Homo sapiens: one gene and its partners. The protein of the gene in region 3 interacts with the protein of the main gene of each other region in a pairwise test. Each region holds a gene or a part of one and is shown on either strand. Other genes may lie near its edges.

Region 1 (6,277 bases), about 15 Mb from region 3:
ATTGATAGACCTGGATTTATTGCTGGGCTGAGCTGGGGTGAAGCTTTGGGTGGCACCTAGCTTCTGTTCAGGCTCTTGTAAGTCTGTAGTTTACCTACCTAGTCAACTCCCTGATGCAGGCTCGTTAGGAACTTAACCATCAACTGTTAGGGTGCTATATGTGTGGTTCACTGCTTCTCTCCTGGGGGAGAAGCTGGGAACTGGGGATTCCTTCCTGATTGTATGGCTCAGTGCCCAGGGTGGGTTTAGTGTTTCTGAGTGCTTCAGCTTTTGCTGCCTGTTTGATAAGACATTTTTTTTCTTGTCTTTTCTTCCTTTTCTTTTTTTTTTTTTTTGAGATGGAGTCTTACTCTGTCGCCCAGGCTGGAGTGCAGTGGTGCAATCTTGGCTCACGCAACCTCCGCCTCCCGGGTTCAAGCAATTCTCTTGCCTCAGCCTCCCAAGCAGCTGGGACTACAGGTGCCCACCACCACACCCAGCTAATTTTTTGTATTTTTAGTAGAGACAGCGTTTCACCATGTTAGCCGGGATGGTCTTGATCTCCTGACCTCGTGATCCACCCACCTTGGCCTCCCAAAGTGCTGGAATTACAGGCGTGAGCCACCGCGACTGGCCTGCTAAGACATTTTCTTAGTTGCCTGGTGTGTAGGAGTCTCTCCACTCACTTCTGACTTTCTTCCAGAGAGAACTGATGTAGGCACAGACGTTTATTCAGTCCATCAATCAGGAACCTCCTATGTCACTGTGTTCCTGGCGTCACTTCTCTGAATACAATCTTTAATGCTGAAATTTGGGTGAGGAGGCACTCAAATGGAGTTCAGAAAATGCAGGCAATGATGAAAGGTAGGGGAGTTCCTTTATTGTTTTTTCTACAGAAAAAGATAAATTCCCAGCCCCTGATCTACTTAGACTGGGGTCAAACCATTAAAGATGTGTGGAAATATGTCTCAGTGGGTCAGATCCAGACCTCCCCTAGAAGTGATGTGTAAGAAGTTACACTGAAGATTGGAGCTGGTCATACTCAAGGCATACTGGAAAAAGATATTGATTTAGGCTGCTGGTGTCATCTTCCCCTGGCAAGTCATAGATCTTTACAAATTCATCTATTTCAAAGAGAGTGGAGGCCCAAGGAGGATTTGAAGCCCCCAGACATATCTGTTCAATGTCATATGACTGAGAATCCCAGGATGAAACCCTCGCAGAGGCGCTGGCTCCTCCAGGATTCTTGATACCAGAAGGCTCACGTAGATCATGGTCATTTGCATCAGAGATTCCAGGACTTACTGGACGAATGTTTGCAGTAGTTATGGCTGAGGGAGTCTCCTCCTTCTTCACTGAAGTTGTCTGGTTTGCTGGCCCTAGTGATGGCCGTGTCTGCATTTGCTGCCGCTGCTGCCTCTTCCATTTGGCACGCTGGTTCTTGAACCAGATCTAAGGAGGGAGGAGGGGGGAGGTTAATAATGGATGTTGAGTATAAAGGGGCATCCTCATGTTCCTCAGGAATTCGGTTTTTTGGTGTGAGAGAGAGTCTCACATTTATTGGAACAAGGGAAGCCCTTTCTACTCTCTGCTGTCCTGGGTTTCAAGGGAAAAGTGGGTGTAGGATTGTACTAGCAATGGGTGGAATATGACCTAGATTGTGATGTATTAAATAGAAGGGTGTTTTTATTAGTGGTGTATTTTTTTTTTTTGAGACAAGCTACCACTCTGTCACCCAGCCTGGAGTGCAGTGCTGCAATCATAGCTCGCTGCAGCCTTGAACTCCTGGGCTTAAGCAATCCTCCTATCTCAGTCTCCCAAGTAGCTGGGACTACAGCCATGTGCCTCCATGTCTGGTTAATTTTTAATTTTTGTTTGTAAAGACATGGTCTTGCTATGTTGCCCAGGCTGGTCTTAAACTGGGCTTAAGCGATCCTCCTGCCTCCACCTCCCAAAGTGCTGGGATTACAAGTGTGAGCCACCATTCCTGGTGCCCAGAGAAAGTATTTTAAAGTCAGAGTATGGGGTGAGAGTTTAGCTTGGGTCATCTTTAGGGTTCATCCAGGTGTTCTCCCATGAATACTTTGTGGGAACTTAGTGACAGGCATCTGGATGACTGTGATGGTCCTGATTAAGCAGAACCCATCCTGAATACACAAGAACAGACCCAAATGGGAGTATCTGAGATCCAGCCTCAAAGAGTCCTGTGTAGCATGGTGGGTCTGGAGTTGGAAAGGTCTGGGTTCAAATTCCAACTCTTGTGTTTATAATGCTTGGAAGACAGCTCTTCTATGTGAGCTTTAGTGTTCCTCAATAAAGTGGGTGCTCATGACAATAAAAATATAAAGTGCTTAACATCTGTCCTTACACATAGCAATTGCCAATAAATAGGAACTGTTATAACAATGATCAAAAGTGTGTGTGAAGCTCTGGGTTAGGCGTGCTACCTACAGACACACTTGGGAACAGACCTTTACTACGGATAGATCAAGTTGTAGCTTTGAAGCCAGTTTCCCCATTGTAGCCAAACTTGGGTGCATGGTCTTTTCAAGCAATTCTCTCAATGCTGTGAGTTGTTTGGAGAGAAATCTTGTGCGTGGCCGACGATAACGCCTTGGCCCTTCTGCAGAGGGAACAGATAAAAGGCTTTCATTAAAAAAATTCGGAAGGAAATGAGGAGAGTACTACATCAAGGGAACACCTGTGGGACAAAAGAATCTGAACAACAGCCTTGAGCCCTAGACCGTCCCTCTGACAGAGCCTACACAAATGAGAAGGAACCAGAAAACCAAATCTGGTAATATGACAACACAAGGTTCTTTAACATCCCCAAAAAATCACATTAGTTCATCAGCAATGGATCCAAACCAAGAAGAAATCCGTGATATACCTGAAAAAGAATTCTGAAGGTCAGTTATTAAGCTAATCAAGGAGGCACCAGAGAAAAGTGAAGCCCAATTTAAGGAAATTAAAAAAAAAGATACAAGAAATGAGGGGAGAAATCTTCAGTGAAATAGAGAGCATAAATAAAAAATAATAAAAACTTTAGGAGACAATGGACGCCCTTTTATCCACTAGACCTAAGAAATGAGATAGACAGCAACACAATGACCAAGAACCCAAAAGCAAATGCAATAAAAACAAAGATAAATAGCTAGGACTTTATTAAACTAAAGAGATTTTGCATGGCAAAAGGAACAGCAGAGTTCTAGACAACCCACAGTCTAGAAGAAAATCTTCACAATCTATACATTTGACAAATGACTAATATCCAGAATCTGCAACGAACTCAAACAAATTAGCAAGAAAAAAACCAAACAATTCCATCAAAAAGTGGGCTAAGGACATGAATGACATGAATAGATAATTCTCAAAAGATATACAAATGGCCAACAAACATGAAAAAATGCTCAACATCACAAATGATTAGGGAAATGCAAATCGAAACCACAAGAATGGCCATAATAAAAAAAATAAAAAAAAATAGATGTTGGCGTGGATGCAGTGAACAGGCAACACTTCTACACTGCTGGTGGCAGTGTAAACTAGTACAGCCACTATGGAAAACAGTGTAAAGATTCCTTCAAGAACTATAAGTAGAACTACCATTCGATCCAGCAATCCAACTACTGGCTATCTACCCAGAGGAAAATAAGTCATTATACAAAAAAGATACTTGCACATGTATGTTTATAGCAGTACAATTCGCAATTGTAAAAATGTGGAACCAACCCAAATGTCCATCAATTGAGTGGATAAGCTGTGGTGTGTGTGTGTGTGTGTGTATATATATATATGTATATATATATAATAATTTATGTATAATGTATATAAATTATATTGTATATAATTATATATAATACAAATATTATAATTTATATATATATAATTTATATATATATAAATTATATGATGGAATGCCACTCAGCCATAAAAATGAATTAATGATATTTGTAACAACCTGGATTAGATTGGAGACCATTATTCTAAGTGAAGTAACTCAGGAATGGAAAACCAAACATCATATGTTCACACTCATAAGTGGGAGCTAAGCTATGAGGATGTAAGGGCATAAGAATGACACAATGGACTTTGGGGATTCGGGGGAAAGGGTGGGAAGGGGGTGAGGGATAAAAGACTACAAATATGGTGCAGTGTATGCTGCTCGGTTGGTGGGTGCACCAAAATCTCACAAATCACCACTAAAGAACTTACTCATGTAACCAAACACCACTTGTTCCCCAATAGCCTACGAAAATACAAAAAAAAATTTAAAAATGTTTTATTAGAATGCAAATATGTATATTCCAAAGGTAAGCTTCTTTCCTAAGCTTGACCTGTGAATCAAGAGCTTAGGCTAAACATTTGACTCACGAGACCCACTCCTCACTCTCTTGCTGGGAGTGTTCTGCATTCCTAGAAAATCAGTGCCAACTTCCACTGAGCAGGACATGTTTTTAAGCCACAGATGGGATAAGCTTATTTTGGTGGCCTCATCCTACAGCCCCTGGAGGAGGAACATCAACCTCTCCATGACATTGGGCACCAATATGTTTTCCTAGCAACTTGGGGACATCTTTCTGTTTCTCATGCTGCTAATAAAGACATACCTGAAACTGGGTAATTTATAAAGGAAAGAAGTTTAATGGACTCACAGTTCCACATGGCTGGGGAGGCCTCACAATCATGGTGGAAAGCAAGGAGGAGCAAAGCCACATCTTACGTGGTGGCAAGCAAGAGAGGGAATGAGACCTAAGCAAAAGGGGAAACCTCTTATAAAACCATCAGATCTTATGAGACTTATTCATTACCATGAGCACCGTATGGGGGAAACCGCCCCATGATTCAGTTATCTCCCACCGGATCCTTCCCACAACGCATGGGAATTATGGGAGCTACAATTCAAGATGAGATTTGGGTGAGTCCTTATTGAGATAGAATAGAATAGTGGCATGATGTTGACACCAGGTTTATATGAGTCTATAAGATTCATAAGAGTATTTGAGGCCCTATTATCCTAACCGGTCATAGACTCAGTGGCACTGCTGTCTATGTTGATTGGCTTGTGAGACCCTGAAGCTATTGGTTTGGCCATTTATTAATGGGGTCTGTAGGGAAGGAGATATGAAGCTTAGTGACCTAAGAATGAATGTCGATTCTCTCATTTACTAGCTCTGTGACTTTGGCAGCATCAGTACACTTATACTGTTTGCCTCCGTATCTTTAACAATAACATGGTCCCAGAAAGCTCACTCCTTTAGGGAAGATGTGAGTAACCAAAGAAGCAAGTCTGTTAATTACAGGCTTGGTGCATGTGTTAGTCCATTTTGCATTTATAAAGAATTACCTAAAACTGGGTAAATTAGAAAAGAGGAATTAATTGGTTCACAGCTCTGCAGGCTATACACAAAGCATAGTGCTGGCATCTGCTTCTGGTGAGGGCCTTAGGAAGCTTCCACTCATGACAGAAGGCGAAGGGGAGCCAAGGTGTTACATGGTGAGAGTGGGAGCAAGAGACAGCAGGGGAAGGTCCCAGACTCTTTTAAACAACCAGATCTCAGGTGAACTTAGAGATAGAGAACCCACTCATTACCATGAGGATGGCACTAAGCCATTCAGAGGGATCTGCTCTCATGATCCAAACCCCTTCCACCAGGCCCACCTCCAACACTGGGGATCACATTTCAACATGAGATTTGGAGGGGACAAATATGCAAACTGTATTAGTGCATAATGGGAGTTTTTACTATGGTTTAGAATATAAATAAGACCTCATCATCTAGTAAAACCTGATTCTCATGGTCATCTATTTTATAGGAAAGTTTCTATTTTCAGGATGCTCTTATTCCTCATGCAAATACATGGAAAAACAGAAGCCAACATGCTGCCCAATTATCGCACAGTGAAGACAAGTGATCGGGCACATGGGTTTCTCTTAGTGTCTCAGCATTTGTTTAGACACAAAGGGAGAACAAAAATTTACAGGACATTGAAGAAAAATTCTCAAACAGGAAGGGGACAGCAAGAAAGGGAGAGAGGGAGAGACAGAGAGAAAGAGAGAAAAAAGAAAGGGAAAGTGGAAGAGAAAAAGAAAGAAGAGGAGGAAAGCAGCAAATAACCACATTTTTTCTTAAGAAAAGAAATAAGGCTGGGCACGGTGGCTCATGCCTGTAATACTAGCACTTTGGGAGGCCAGGGAGGGTGAATCACTTGAGATCAGGAGTTCAAAACCAGCCTGGCCAACATGGTGAAACCCCATCTCTACTAAAAATATAAAACAATTAGAAAAAAATTACAA
Region 2 (8,339 bases), on a different chromosome or scaffold from region 3:
GGGGAGAGGGGAGGGAACTTGGGAGGGCGTGCTCTTGGCTAGACTGATGGCATTCTCTGACATAAAGGTTAACTTCCAGTAGGCCCCTGCTAAGCTTGGACAGACAGCTGGAATCTGAGCTCCTTGAGGGCAAGATTGGGATCTTTTCTTTGTATCCCCAGTCTTATCTAGTGCTAGATAGTTTTAGTGAATACTTCTTAATTGAATTTCATTGGTTGTATGTCACATTCTTCCTAGTTTGTCAAATAAGTTTGGTAAATGCTTTAATACAATCCCTTTTCCCTGATGTCCTCATTTGAAAGTTGTGAAGATGGCAGTCATATCCTAAAATTTATCTTCATATGGTTAAAGATGGTTTTTTAGCCACCCTGCAGTCTTAGTCTTGGTGAAAAGAGCATGGACTAGGAGTCAGAAGTTTTGGATTGTTGTTATAGCTGTGTTGTTAGTTTGTGTCACCATAGACTTTCATGTTCTTATCCATACTCTGTGAGCATAAAAATTTCTGCCTTATCTATTATATTATGCCCAATGATTGTGAAGAGAAAACAAAAGGTCGTGTGTAGTGGACAGGTGAGGAGCTATTGCCCCTCTGTATACACAGTGAATTCTCAGGAAACATGGACAGTAGACTCTCTAGGGCTAACAGTGAGTTGACTCTGGACTGCTATGTGGTTTGGGGCTGGGGAGTTGGATGTGATTTGGAAAATCAAGTGTGTAAAAATTGACATGAAATCCTGAGTTCAAAATAAATTTATTGAAATGTTCAACACAGACATGTGCTTTCAGAGAGAATAGAAACCCTTTTTCACAGTTTATATACCTCAAGATAGAAGGCTAACTAGTTGAAGTGTCCTCAGAGCCAATGATCAGTCCTTAAAAAGCTCCCACACATCCCGGACTTAACAGACTCCCAGAACTGGCTGGGACTCCAGGAGGTCATGTAGTCCATCCCGCTGCCTCTAGGCAGGTAAGAGAAGAGCAATATCTTAGAATTTGTGGTAATAAATTTGCTGACCTTTCTTTGTTAAGAGTTTCTCCTGTTCTTGAAGCTGTAAGGATTGATTTTGAAGCAAACCTGTTGGAAAACACAAGGAACTTGTCTATGCTAGCATATTTACTACAAAAAGTTTTCTTTTCAGAACTTTGCTTAGAACCTTGGTTATTAAATATGTTCCCATCTGCTGTGTGTTGAATTTTGTCCCCCAGAATATATATGTTGAAGTCCTAACCCTCAGTACCTTAAATAATGACCTTATTTGGAGATAGATTCTTTAAAAGATAATCAAGTTAAAATGGGGTCATTCAGGTGGGCCCCAATCTAATATCACTGGTGTCCTTATAAGAAGGGGAAATATGGACACAGATATGTTCATGGGAAAGACAATGTGAAGAGACACAGAGAGAAGACGGCCATCTACAAAGCCAAGGAAAGAGCCCTGGGATAGATCTTTCCCTAAACGCCCTCAGAAGGAAACAACCCTGCTGACATCTTGGATTTCTAGTCTCCAGAACTGTGAGACAATACATTTCTGTTCTTCAAGGCACCCAGTCTGTGGTACTTTGCTATGAATATAGCATCCTTATATCTCCCCCTACCATGTCTCTATCTTCAAGTCTTTGCTTGAAGATTTTCCCTTTTCCCTGTGGTTGCTTTGCTCTCTTAATAATCATTGCTGCTTTCATGAAGCTTCTCTATCAGGTGTCAGAGGTTAAAGTGGTGGGCAACCAGCAGCTGTATTAATTGAGTCAGGTTCTCCAGCTTTTCAGAAACTGCTTTTCTTCTGAGAAGTCCCTTTTCCTCTTTGGGCCCAATATGTAGTTTTGAAGTGGATTGAGGCACGTATAGTGTAAGCTTATTTTCTAAACCATCTCTAATGACAGGTCTATGTGACACATTCATGTACATAAATTAGAATATATAAAATAAGAACTGCTTTAGGAAACCCAGTATTTAAAAAAAATCTGCAGTTCTAGGGGAAATGTAAGTGGTGTCATTGGCATGGAAGGAGAACAGTAGAAAAAAAAGAACAGAGGCTAACACATAATTTATGGAGAGCTATGTAAATGACCTCACTTTACAAGAAGAGGGTCTGAAAGTGCACAGAGTTAGAGCATATGCCAAAGACTGGGCCCTTAGTCCCTACTCTGGGTGCCTTTTGTGGGCCAGGACCCCAGGAAAACCCTGTGGACTTTCAGAATCTGGAAAGCGAACTTACCCTGCAACTGCTGTACTCTGGTCACCAGGGTGAGTTTCTCTGCCTCTGACCTTTTTAGTTGATCTGAAAATGCAATAATGCAAGCCAAAATAAAGGAACCCAAGACTTAATGAACTCAGTACTTAGGATGGAAATTAGTAATAGATGCTGTCTTGTCATGGTCTTTAACGTGTGTCTATTGGAAGTTGCTCTATCTTCGTGTCCCAGTTCTGAAGAGGTAAACCAGAAGCCAAGTACCTCAGGTTTTTGTGCATCAACAATGTTGGGTTGCATTGAGGCTTGTGTTTACACACTATCTAGTCCTCTCTATCAGCGGACACAGAGGATGTGACTGAGAGACTTTCTCTATGCCTTGTGTTTCAACTGACCTTTCCCTTTCAAATTAGGACTGTGGCCTTGACATATGTGACTGATGTGGGAGCAGCTGTGATCTGGCCCAGAGGGATGGGCTAAAAAAGAGAGCTCAGACAACAAGATACTCTATCTACTACAGTGAAATTAATTTTCAATTTTGGATGATTAAAACAGTCCTGCCTCTCCCTCAAGGTAAAATGAGATTATAAAGCCAATCAACCAATCAAGCAAACAAATAAAAGGCTGAAGCCTTTCTCTTAATTCAGTTTCTTTTTTCTTAGCTCACTTGGCCATGGCTGCCATGCACTCAAGGCCTCCAAGGAGAAGAGTACCTTGTAGGTCCTGGGTATCCAAGCTGCACAGGTCTCTGTCCCCTTGCAGGCATTCAATCTTGGCCTGCAGTTGCTGGTGCTCATTTTCCAAAAATCGCAGGGCCTGGTTCATCTGTAAGTCCCTGCTATCTGCTCCCTGTAAGGAGGAGGAAGGGCCAATATAGAAGGAGGTCAGTGTTGGGGTGGAGGTTGGGGGGCGGGTACCATGGAAGAGGAAAATGTAGAAAAGTCTGGAATTTTAGAGATAGAAGGAATGTTAGGGAGATGAGAAAATAGAGAAGTCTTTCTTTTTTCCTATTTCTTCCCTTTGCTTTGTTCCTCATATTTATAACAGCAGATTAGACTTTTGATATTCACAAGGAACTCGCGTCTTTTATTTATTTATTTTTATTTTTAGAGATGGGGTCTCACTTTGTCACCCAGACTGGAGTGCAGTGGTGCCATCATAGCACATTGCAGCCTCGACCTCTTGGGCTCAAGCAATCCTCCCATCTTAGCCTTCTGAGTAGCTGGGACTACAGGCATTTGCCAGTAGTTTTGAAGTGGACTGAGGCATGTGCAGTGTAAGTTTATTTTCTAAACCATCCCTAGTGACAGGTCTAAGTGACACATTCATGTACATAAATTAGAATATATAAAATAAGAATTGCTTTAGGAAACCCAGTACGTTAAAAAATCTGCCATTCTAGGGGAAATGTAAGTGGTTGTCATTGGTGTGGGAGTCATGTCTTGACACTTTGGTAAATCACCAAATTAAGGAATACAAAGTCATTAGTTTTCTGGATGTTTTCATTTTCTCTTTTTTCTACTTCTGGCAGTATCAGTTTTTTTTTTGGTTAGGGTCTTTTTTTTTCCACAAAGATTTAAAGTTAAAAAACCCCTCACAAAAATCTTCATAGGAGTTGCCTTATAGGTGATGGGAAGAAGAAAACAACAAAGGTTGAGCTGTGGATACCACGCAGAGTGACCAGCTGGGTTCACTCCTTTGATAAGACTCACATACTCTGTCTCTTATCAAGTGGGCTGTTCTGAGCCCTGCTTCAGGAAAATTACAAAGATCAGCTTTTGAGGTGGATCCTCAAAATTCCAAACCAGGTAAATAAATCTATGCAAAATAATAGCTAATATTTACTGAGTGTTTTTGTGTGCCAGGCATTGTGCTAAGTGCTTTACATGGATCATCTTACTTAATACTCAGAACCACCTTATGATGTAGGTACTATTATCCTCATTTTAGAGATGGGGAAACTGAGGCTTAGGACAGATTGAAGATGATGGAACCCTTGAGGATGCCAAGAATCTAATTGTAATTGCTAAATGTAATTGCTTAAAATACACATTGGCAGAAAGTGTTAATACTCACCTGTAAATAAATTAGTGACATTCTTTCTTTGCCAACAGTGGGCAATTCTGAACTGGATGCTTTTTTGGGATGGAGTTTGGAGAGTGGGTTGGGAGATGACATTAGTAGGCTGATGAATATTCCAGCCAGTTCTTTTCATTTGGGTGGTGATGGTGTCATTCCAATGAACGCTTAGTTCATTTGCATGAGCAATGCAGACATCCTTGCTAAACTCAAAATTAGATTTCAGAGCCAAAACAGTGAATTTGGTACAAAGTAGTGGTGACTGAGGAACTGAAAGCCAGATGCTGTCAGCTGCCTTTGGAGTCCCTAATCCAGAACAGCTTCTTTCATCACCATCCCTCCTCCCCATACCCTGTCTTCCCTCCCCACCCCCAGTGCCTGGTACCTGCAGTTTGGACTGAAGCACGTGGAGTTGGCTCTCCAGCTCCCTGTGCTGGGTCCCAAGGGTCCTCCAGTCCTCCTTCAGAGCCTCATACTGGCTCCTCCACTCTTCACACTTCTGCTCTGCCAGGGCCAGGGATCGCTGAGGGAGATCAGAGAGGAGAGGGCTCCAGGGAGTTGTGCAGCTGGCTCCCCTTGTTCCCCAAGCTGCCTGGAGTCCCCAGCCCCATGTCTATGTGGCATCCCCATACCTGTGTGCTCTGTAGTTGCTGCTCTGCATTCATTTTCTCCTCCAGCACTTTCTGCAGTGACTCCTTGGCCTTCTGCTCATAGCTGTTTTTCTGGTCTTCCATCTCCAGTAGTACTTTTTTCATTCCCCAAGGGGAGTATTTCTGTAAATTTGATGCAATTCAACAAATACACATTGAGCTTCTGTGTGCCAAATCCTGAGCTGGGATACAGAAATGAAAAGAAGTTGGTTCTTCCCCCAGGCAGAGATACCAGTAATCTAGTGAGCCATTTCTTTTAGGGTAGAGCTAGCAAGAAGAGTCCCTCAGGCAATGAGAGATGAGTGGAGGGCATAATAAACAGTGCCCTAGGCTTCCTGGGCATTATATCTGAGGCCTTCTGCAAGCTCTTGGAATCCAAGATGTCTAAACAGGACTCATCTTTCTAAACATGTTCTTTTTTCTTGGGGTTCCTATCTCAGTGACCAGAATCATCATCCATCCAGGCTTTTCCAAACCCTAAACCAGGGAGTCAATCTTCATTTTCTCTCTCACTTCCTCCCCCTCTAATCAGTTGGTCATTGAGCCTTGACAATTTCCTTAACAGCTCATATCTGTCTCCTCTCTATCCCTACTGCTGCTTCCTTAGTTCAGGCTCTAGTAGTAGTGTTATGTGGATTAATGCAACAGCCTCCCTTTCTTCAAATCTTGCCTCCCTTCAGTCCCTTTTCAGTTCTGCATTTAGAGGGTTCTTTCTAAAATGCAAATCTGATCTTGCCACTTCCTGTATAAATCTCTCCATGGATTCTCAGCATACTAAGAATCACATCCAAACTCCTTGTCATGGCTCCTCTTACACGCCTAGACTTTCATCCCATGCTACTTCCACCTAAGCTGAGATGTTTGCAGATCCCCCAGCACTCTGTTTTTTGGGGCTCTGCCTTTACCCATGTAGCTTCTTCTGCCTACAGCCAGTTAACTTCTACTAATACTCAAGATTCAGTCCAGTATCATCAGTTCTGATAAATTGACCAACTACCCCCATCCCACAATGTCTTATGGATTAGGTAGCTTTTCTTAGGGTTCATGGTGTTCACATAGTATCCCCTGCATGCCTCTATTATTCTACTCTATTGACTCATCTGTCTTTCATACTGGATTGTAAACTCCTTCAGGGAGGGAGCATACTGCTGCTGCTTTAAAAAAAAATCATTGTAGCTTCTTTACAATGCCTAATGAACTTCATGTTTTAAAATTAATACATTTGCATTATAAAATTCCTCCTGGCTGCAGGATTAAGGAGACACAAGCGCAGCTTTGCAAATTCACTGGGGGTCTTGCCTTCTCCCTTTCTTTCATCTTTATGCCCTGTGATTTCGGAGAAGGCAGGCAGATTTTATTGTCAATTCTGGATTACCTACTGTGTAAGCAGTAGACCAGATGACAACAATTTAGGGATCAATATGAAATCATTTCCATTTAGCTTTGGAATTGTCTGAAATTTTGGATTTAAATTTGAGTGGGTCTTATAGTTTTGGAACTTTCATTAAAAACCAGATCCAGGAATTAACCTGGTTGAGGTCATATGTAGGGGATGTCCCAGTTATTGGACATCCAATGACCATCCATGCTGGGCACTGGTTATGTGTTATTCCCTATTGAAAATGAATAGACTGGCATTCTGGATTATATATTAGTCTCCTGTGAACTTGGTTGGCATTATTTAGTCCTGACAAAGCAAGTTATACTGAAAAAATGAAAGTTGTGGACCAAGAAACTTATAGACTCCATAAACTCTCTTCCCCTGTAAGACGCCATCAATGTGGCCAGGACTGTCTTCTCTCTCTAACTCCAGATGGGAGAATTCTGCCTGTTTCACCCCATTCTCTGATTTGATATCTTCCCACCTGTCAGGTATCCATCACTTCTCAAATGTGAAAGCTGATTTCTTTCTATCTCTTATAAACCAAGATTAGGCCAATCAAGAGATTACTAATGCTGGAAAATGGTGTTACAGAAGAGCCAAGTAAAAGAGCTTTTACATTCTTCCAGGGGTTGCTAGAAAAAACAGAAAAAAGTTACCCATGGAATGAAAATAATTTTGTAAGACTTCATTATAACATCTAACTCATCTGTTCAAAGATTAGGATGCGTAAAGGGCTGTCTGGGTGATGTGAGTCTTTACCAAGGGCCTTCCCCTACAGTGTCAGGTATTCTCAAGGTTCCCCTGGAGCTGACAAACTGGTTAGTGCTGGGATTCCTCCAGGGTGCAAAGAGAAGGATACTGGGAGAAAGGGAGAGGAAGAAGGATGGAGACAGTGATCTAGTGAATTAGAGACTAAAGTGTAAATGGCCAAGCCAGAAATGGGTAAGTAGGAATGGGTGTGTTATTCTCTATCTGGTGGTGTTTCTCGAAAGTAAGATTGAGGTTCAAAAACATTCTTCTCATTTAATTCTAGATTCCTGAGATGGAAGTATCCTTCAGAATGCTTACCTGGGTACAGGTGTATAGCTGGTTTTCTAAGGATCTCAGTTTCCCCTTCAGTTTGTCTTCATTAAGCTGTCCCTGGAGCAAATGGGATGAGTTAATGAGCTTGGGGCAAAATCTAGTCTGCAAAGAGTTTGACTCTATATTCCTATTCTACTGCCCAGCACATGGTTGGTGCTCAAACAGTGAACTCTTTCAGGAGGCAGGCAGGAGCAAAGATGACAAAGGATGCTGGATAGAAGAGGATCTTCTCCTGTTTCTCTGGACTAGGACAAGAAAGAATAAGACTGGCCTCAAGTCCTCTTTTTACCTCGATTTTTATCAAATGGCTCAGGGTAGCATAGCAGGGGGGCCCCGGAAGGAAAGCTTCTAAGCTACCCTTTCGCTCACTATCTCCCTCCCCTGTCTAGGCACTTCTGCACTCCTCACCTCTTCTCAGTCTTGTACGTGGACTTTTCCCTGTAAAATGTAGGCCAGTGAGGCTAACGCAGTCTCCCCTCCCGGGAGAATGTTTATTCCCTCCCTTGCCCTCGGTTATGAGCTCATTTATATCTCCTCAACATTTCTATGTTGAAGTCCTAAGCCCCGAGTGCCCCAGAATGTGACCATATTTGGAGAAAGGGTCTTTAAAGATGTAGTTAAGTTAAAATGAGGCCATTAAGCTGGCCCTAATCCAATATGATGGATGTCCTTATTAAAAGAGGAGATCAGGGCACTGCAGGAAGGCCATGTGGAGACACAGAGAGAGATGGCAATCTGTAAGCCAGGAAGAGAGACCGCAGGAGAAACGAACTCTGCTGACACCTCGATCTCAGACTTTTAGCCTCCAGAACTATGAGAAAATAAGTTTGTTTTTGAAGTTCCCCTGACTGTGGTACTTTGTCATAGCAGCCCTAGGAGATTAATACACTCCCCTCCCTGCCACACACACCTCCACATGCACACACACACCTCCATATACACACACCTTCACAT
Region 3 (6,379 bases):
CAGTCCCTTTAGAGTTGACAAAGGCTGCCGTGTGGTTTAAGGTGGCATAGAATGTCTTCTCAATAAATAATATTAAACCAATGGGTTACACCTAGTAAAAAATAAATCTAACTCACACTATAAAAACACTTCTTAGTTTTTATCTAGTTGTACATTTTTTGATTTATATTTAAATTTGAGAAATAAAAGTCATATACGGTCATCCTTCACTATTCGTGGGTGATTGGTTTCGAGATCTCCACTCAGATACCAAAATCTGTAGATGCTCAAGCCTCTTATATGAAATGGCACAGCGCTTGCAAATAACATATGCACATCCTCCTGTATACATGAAATCATCTCTTGATTACTTATAATTCCTGATACAGCCTACACACAGCTTCATTTGTGTCCATTCAACATAGTTATGAGTTTTGGAACTCTGTGGATATTTTCTCTGAATATTTTTGATTTATACTTTGTTCAATAAAGACCTGTAAACCCCACAGATACGGAGGAGTGACCGTATATTTATAGTATGAAAGATGATGTGTTGATATGTGTCCCCATGGAGATGAGACTAACAAGGCCTATGACTCTACAAATGTTTCATCGTGGAATGACTCTGCCAGCTTTCCAGGTCTGCAGAGAGTAACAATGTCACTTGTTCATGTGATTCCCGATCCTTGGAACCTCCTATGTGCTGCATCTTTGGATGGAAATTGGAGTCCCAGAGACAAATGAGGCTCCACACTGCTTCCAGAAGCTCAGAGTCCAGAGGTGAGAACCCGGTGGAGAACAGATGGGATTATATGGACATGGTACTGATAACACCGGAAGCCTTAGGCAAGAAAAGAGTCCCATTACCTAAACCATGAGGGCAGACATGTTTATTTGAAGGAGGGAAAACTACATTGAAATTATTTTAAAAAATATATAAGTTTTACTGCTGACAGAAGGCTGAAAGCTAGTCTGAGGGGAGGTGGAACAGCATGAGGGAAGGTGGAACAGCACGTGTCTAAGTGCCGTGTTAAGAGGGAGCCTCTTGTATGTTTGGAATTGTGAGTTCCTCAGTGTGATTGCAGCCTCAAGTAGACTAGGAAGTAAGCCAGTTAGGTTGGAGAGGTGGGCAGGGGTCAAGTGAAATGGAGAATTGTGGGCTAAGCAAAGGAGTGTGTTTTCTCTCCAGCAGGCAGTGGGGACCTTAGACATTTGTAAGCAAGGGAGAGGCACGTTCAGATTTGTGGTGTGAGGAAGAGCGATGCCCTAAGATGCAGACTCACGCCTTCAGATTCCAGCTGCTGGTACATTGGAGCTGGCAACCCAGTTTTGAGACAGGGCTGTTGTCTCCCTAGAAGATCCCCTCAAGGCCTGACTGTGGTGCTCATGGGCAGGAGACAACTTTGGATCAGGGCTCAGCATTTGGAAGTTCCGTGTACACGATGATATCTGTTGGGGGTGTCTTGGGCCTCTGAGAAGGGCGAGTGATTTTTCTCTGTGTGAAAACGCAGTGATTCAACTGTGCATATGTCACCTCCTGAGGGTCTTGTTCATCAGAGTCCTGGAGAGAGGGAAATGCTGAGTGAGGGAGGGTGCTCACATTTTCCAGGACTCTTTGGGAATAACACTAGCCACGAGGCTGGGCCGAGGAGCACCTACCTCCCTGTTCACTGTTCTGTTCCCTGCAGGCTCTTGGTCCATTACAACAGCATCTGTAGAAGACGGAAGTCAACAAAACAGCTCAGAGGGCACTTCTGGGCCCTCATTTCATAAGCAGATACCAACATACAGGGGGAGACCATAGGAGCCTGAGGTCCCTCAGTTGCCAACAGCAGACTCAGACATTCTATCTCTCTGAGCTCAAGGACCCATCCCATGAATAGCTCTGAGTTCCCATCCCATTGATTCTGTCTCCCACTTTCTGCCTGTCATGGAACCTTCTCCTGGATGTGAGTGGCTGCAGGGGACATGAGGATACAGTTCAGAATCAGGCAATGGTCTGTGAGCTGAAGGCAGGGACAGGGAGTCTGGTGCTCTCTCTAGAAAGTCCTCCCTCTGTGGCTGCTGCCTTGGGCCAGGGACCATCCTGTCTGTGAGGAACACACACCTGAGTGCTCCCATCCTGCTTCCCCACATGGCCCTGAGCTCTCTGGCCTCTGCTTCGTGAGACTTACTTTTTTTGTTGCAGCACCAGCGATGAAGGAGAAAGAAGAGGAGGAGGATGAAGAGGATGATGACCACTGAGGTCCCAATCAGAACATGCAGGTGTCTGGGGTTACCTGGAAGAAGAGGAGACACCAATAAGAAGCTAATCATAGCAGTTCCTCTTTATGAATTGTCTCACATTTCTTGATTGACAGGTAACCACATACAACACCCCTTTAGGACAAGCACCCAGATGGAGGGAGACCCAGCTTTCTCCTGCTTTCTCAGTTATAGCTCTCATAGTAACCATAGAACGTGTTGAGGATACAACTACTTTAGTTGAGATGTTTGACCCCTTCAAACCTCACATTGAAATTTCACCCCCACTGTGGGAGGTTGGGCCTCTTGAGAGGTGTTTGGGTCATGGAGGTGGATCCATCATGAACAGACCAATGCTGTCCCAAGGAGACGGGGTTAGCAAGTTCCCCTTCTATTAGTTCCTGGAGAGCTGGTTGTTCAAAAGAGCTTGGAAGCTCCATCGCTCCCCCTCCCCCTTGCTCCCTCTCTTGCCGTGTGATCTCTGTGGTCTCTGCACAGACAGACCCTCCTTCCCTTCTGCCAGAGTGGGAGCAGCCTGAGGCCGTCACGAGAAATAGATGCTGGTGCCACGCTTCCAGTACAGCCTGCAGAACTGTGAGGCAAACCAATCTCTTTTCTCTAGAAGTTACCCAGGCTCAAGTGTTCCTTTAGAGCAACAAAAATGGACTAAGACAGCAACGTCCTGAGATCAGGAGGAACGTCTCAGAACAGCCTGGGCTGTCTTCCTGTTCTTCCTGGAGGAGGACGTCATGCAGTGCTTTAGCTGAGTGCTTCCTGTGGCTCCACAGTACAAAACCCAGGCTGGGCTGCTCTCTGGCTTCCCCCAGCTACACTGCAAATGGGGTGACTCCATATGTCCCGAGTAGCTTTTCTGAGCCTTGAGGGACTGGCTCACATTGAAATGTAGGTTTCTGTTGTCACTCGCTGCTTATCTGTTAGTAATGAACCTGCCTGTGTAATGTATTCTCTGTGTGTTCTGTCTCCCTGGAGTGACGGTGAGTGATAGGAATTGGCATAAGCCCAGGTGCAGTCCAGGAGGTATTTAGAGTCTTCTCTGGGAAGACTGCACTGGGATTGATACACAGCGAATGTGCTTTAGGATTTCTACATCCACAGCATTCTTGAATCAAACAACTTGCATTCTCCAAGAAAAGGAAACAAAAGTGAAATCAAGATAAAAAAAGCTAAGTAGAATTCTCTTATGTCAAATGGCCAGGAAATAGTGTTGAAGCCCGTGTGAAACGTGCTACTCTTTGTGATCTCGGGAGACACATGTTAGGCTGCTGTTCTACCCGAGAGGCTGGGGGAAGGACCACCCCCTCGGCCATCTATTGCTTCAATACCACCTGTCCTCCTGTGAATTAGTAGGAAAGGGGAGCAGGAGCTAGTGCTGGCACTGATCTCTGATTCCAAGATCTGGACTCACTCCAAGGAGTATCAATGTTTACCTCCCCATAGCCTATCTGAATCTCCACAGGTGATTGGAAGTAGGGGTGAGGTGGGGGATTTGGGTGAGTGGGCAAGTTTTTTGTTGCGATGAACAGAGCACTTTCTCTATTCCACGATCTGTGCTGGAGGATTCTGAGGGCTTTCACATTTTCTATGTGATCTCATTCTCACAGAAAGCCAAATAGGGAAGAGGTTTTAAGCTCATTGCCTAATGGATAAGATAAAGGATCAAAGAAGTAATTATAGAGAAATAGAAAAACGATGATTGGAATTCAGGTGCCTTTGTCATTCGTGTGTGTTTTATTATATTTATGTATTTCTTATTTTTATTTTTTGAGATAGAGTCTCCTTGTGTCCCCCAGGCTGGAGTGCAGTGATGCAATCTCCACTCACTGCAACCTCCACCTACTGGGTTGAAGTCATTCTCCTGCTTCATCCTCCAGAATAGGAGCTGGGATTACAGGGATGCACCATCGTGCTCGGCTAATTTTTGTATTTTTAGTAGAGATAGGGTTTCACCACGTTGGCCAGGCTGGTCTGGAACTCCTGACTTCATGGAATCCACCCACCTTGGCCTCCTGCAGTGCTAGGTTACAGGCGTGAGCCACTGTTCACAGACTTGTATATTATGCTATAATAAGTCTCTTCATTTCCACCACCACTCATATATCTGTCACTCCTTTGCCAGGTATTGATTTATGTGTAGGATGAATAAATCTCAGAAAGAAATTAATTAAGCGAGGATTAAACAAGTAGGAAAATCAAACCCAGTAAGCGTTTCCAGTCAATGATTCTACCTCACAAACATATCTTATATCCATCTACTTCATTCATTTAGTGTCTAAATCAGCACCACATTTCACCAGTGGGGTGGCAATTGCCTTTTCCACGGTCTCCTAGATTCCAGTTATGCAACTGAGCCTCCCTTATTTTCATGTCAGTCATATTAATCATGTAGGGATTCCTGGTTACCCCGAGGTGAATCCAATGGCTGTGAGTGTCAAACACACACTCCTTGTTGCTCCTTAGTTTCCTGTGTACCCAGTGTGCTCTCCGTCTCTCTACAGTCGTCTTGTCATTCTCCCCACATCATTCCCAGCATTTGAGGCAGAGCCTCTTCCTTCCACATCAGATTGTTTTCACCTTTGTGCCTTCACGGCTGACAGCTGTGTGTGCAAAATCCTTCCGCCAATCTTTCAGGGGTTCAATCCGTGTTTTTCATTAATGTCACAAATATCTGAATAGTGAGACCTTCTTTGTCACCTGAAATCATACACTCAGCATTATCTATTATTGATTTTGAATTCTGGCTGGGCACAGTGGCTCACGCCTGTAGTCCCATTACTTTGGCATGCTGAGACGGTCGGATCACTTGAGGTTGGGAGTTTCAGACAAGCTTGGCCAACGTGGTGAAACATCCTCTCTACAAAAAATATACAAAAAGAATTAGCCGGGCACGGTGGCAGTTGCCTGTAATCCCAGCTACTCGAGAGGCGGAGGCAGGAGAATCACTTGAATCCAGGAGACGCAGGTTGCAGTGAGCCAAGATCGTGACACTGCACTGTAGCCTGGAAGACAGAGGGCGACTCTGTCTCAATAAACAAAAGAACAAACAAAAAATAGATTTCATGCACAGATGCTTCCCAATGGATCATTCATTTATAGATCCACTTGTGCATTCATTTTCTGCCCTCCCATTTAACCATCTGCAATATCAGTGTCCCAAGGGCAGAAGCCAAATGCATCTTGTTCACCGTTTGTGGAAGGCAGGAGAATGCTGTCCCACCCCAAAATGTCCCTGTCCTAGCCTCCATAGCTTGTGAATATGTTATTTTACATGGAAAGGAGGAATGAAGATTGTAGATGGAATTGCGGTTGCTAATCAGCTGAACTTAAAACAAGGGTATCCTGGATGATTTCCAGGAGATTATGAGGGATTTTCATCTTGGTGAACCCAATAGAATCCCCAAGTTTTCAAAAGATAAGGAAGAAGGGAGAGCAGCATTCAGAGAAAGAGGTGTGGTAAGGAAGAAGGCACTGAGTGATGCCATGTGAGATGTGACCAGTCTTTGTGGGCTTTGAGGAAGGAGGAAGGGGAACAGGAGCCAAGGAACTGGGAGCCTTTAGAAGCTGGGATAAGTGAGAAGCAGATTCTTGCCTGGAATCCTCAGAGGGAAGGCAGCCTTGCTGTCACCTTGATTTTAGCCCAGTAAGATGCACTTCCTACTTTGAGCTACAGCACTGTAAGATAATTAAAAAACCGTTTTGTTTTCACCCACGAATCTTGTGGAAATTTGTTATGGCAACAATAGGAAAAGGTTCCGCACTGCACAGCCTGAGCATGGGGCCGTGGCTGAATGAGTCAGTGAGTCGAAGTGTGCGTGCATGAGCTCCGTTCTCTGTTACGGCAAGGCTGTTGCTCTGCTGAGTCAGCCAGGGTTGCTTCATGACCAACAGTAATTCATTCCTTGGCAAGTGGAACTTCTCTAAAACACCTCGCCCTCATCAGATGTTCCCTTCCCTTCCCTCTCTCAAGCCCCCAGGAATTTATCCTCCAGTTAGGAATGCAGGCAGAACAAACATTGCATTTTTCCTGAGAAGGATGTCAGATTGGCAATCATTCTTCTAGCTTGTAGGAGGTCTCAGCTCCATAAAATGAGAGATTAAGAGATTTCACTGAGCCCTAGGTTGGGCCCAGATCCCTTTC

Evidence for each region. The genes of interacting proteins can lie anywhere in the genome.
Region 1: the proteins of KIR2DL3 (region 3) and LEUTX interact in binary tests that used the Homo sapiens proteins (3 or more experiments, as listed by UniProt).
Region 2: the proteins of KIR2DL3 (region 3) and TRAF3IP3 interact in binary tests that used the Homo sapiens proteins (3 or more experiments, as listed by UniProt).

Annotation. Positions count from the first base shown.
Region 1 is NC_000019.10:39,780,852-39,787,128, reverse strand, and holds the end of LEUTX (paired-like homeodomain transcription factor LEUTX), read right to left. Parts: intron 2,603-6,277; coding exon 2,451-2,602; intron 1,432-2,450; coding exon 994-1,431; 3' UTR 838-993; downstream 1-837.
Region 2 is NC_000001.11:209,772,051-209,780,389, reverse strand, and holds part of TRAF3IP3 (TRAF3-interacting JNK-activating modulator), read right to left. Parts: intron 7,443-8,339; coding exon 7,371-7,442; intron 5,101-7,370; coding exon of another isoform or gene 5,042-5,100; coding exon 4,901-5,041; intron 4,817-4,900; coding exon of another isoform or gene 4,802-4,816; exon of another isoform or gene 4,792-4,801; coding exon 4,654-4,791; coding exon of another isoform or gene 4,266-4,653; intron 3,039-4,265; coding exon 2,903-3,038; intron 2,280-2,902; coding exon 2,217-2,279; intron 1,183-2,216; exon of another isoform or gene 1,076-1,182; coding exon 1,016-1,075; coding exon of another isoform or gene 987-1,015; exon of another isoform or gene 960-986; coding exon of another isoform or gene 937-959; exon of another isoform or gene 1-936. UniProt on the Homo sapiens protein: Adapter protein that plays essential roles in both innate and adaptive immunity. Plays a crucial role in the regulation of thymocyte development.
Region 3 is NC_000019.10:54,747,528-54,753,906, reverse strand, and holds the end of KIR2DL3 (killer cell immunoglobulin-like receptor 2DL3 precursor), read right to left. Parts: intron 2,259-6,379; coding exon 2,154-2,258; intron 1,692-2,153; coding exon 1,639-1,691; intron 1,541-1,638; coding exon 1,388-1,540; 3' UTR 855-1,387; downstream 1-854. UniProt on the Homo sapiens protein: Receptor on natural killer (NK) cells for HLA-C alleles (HLA-Cw1, HLA-Cw3 and HLA-Cw7). Inhibits the activity of NK cells thus preventing cell lysis.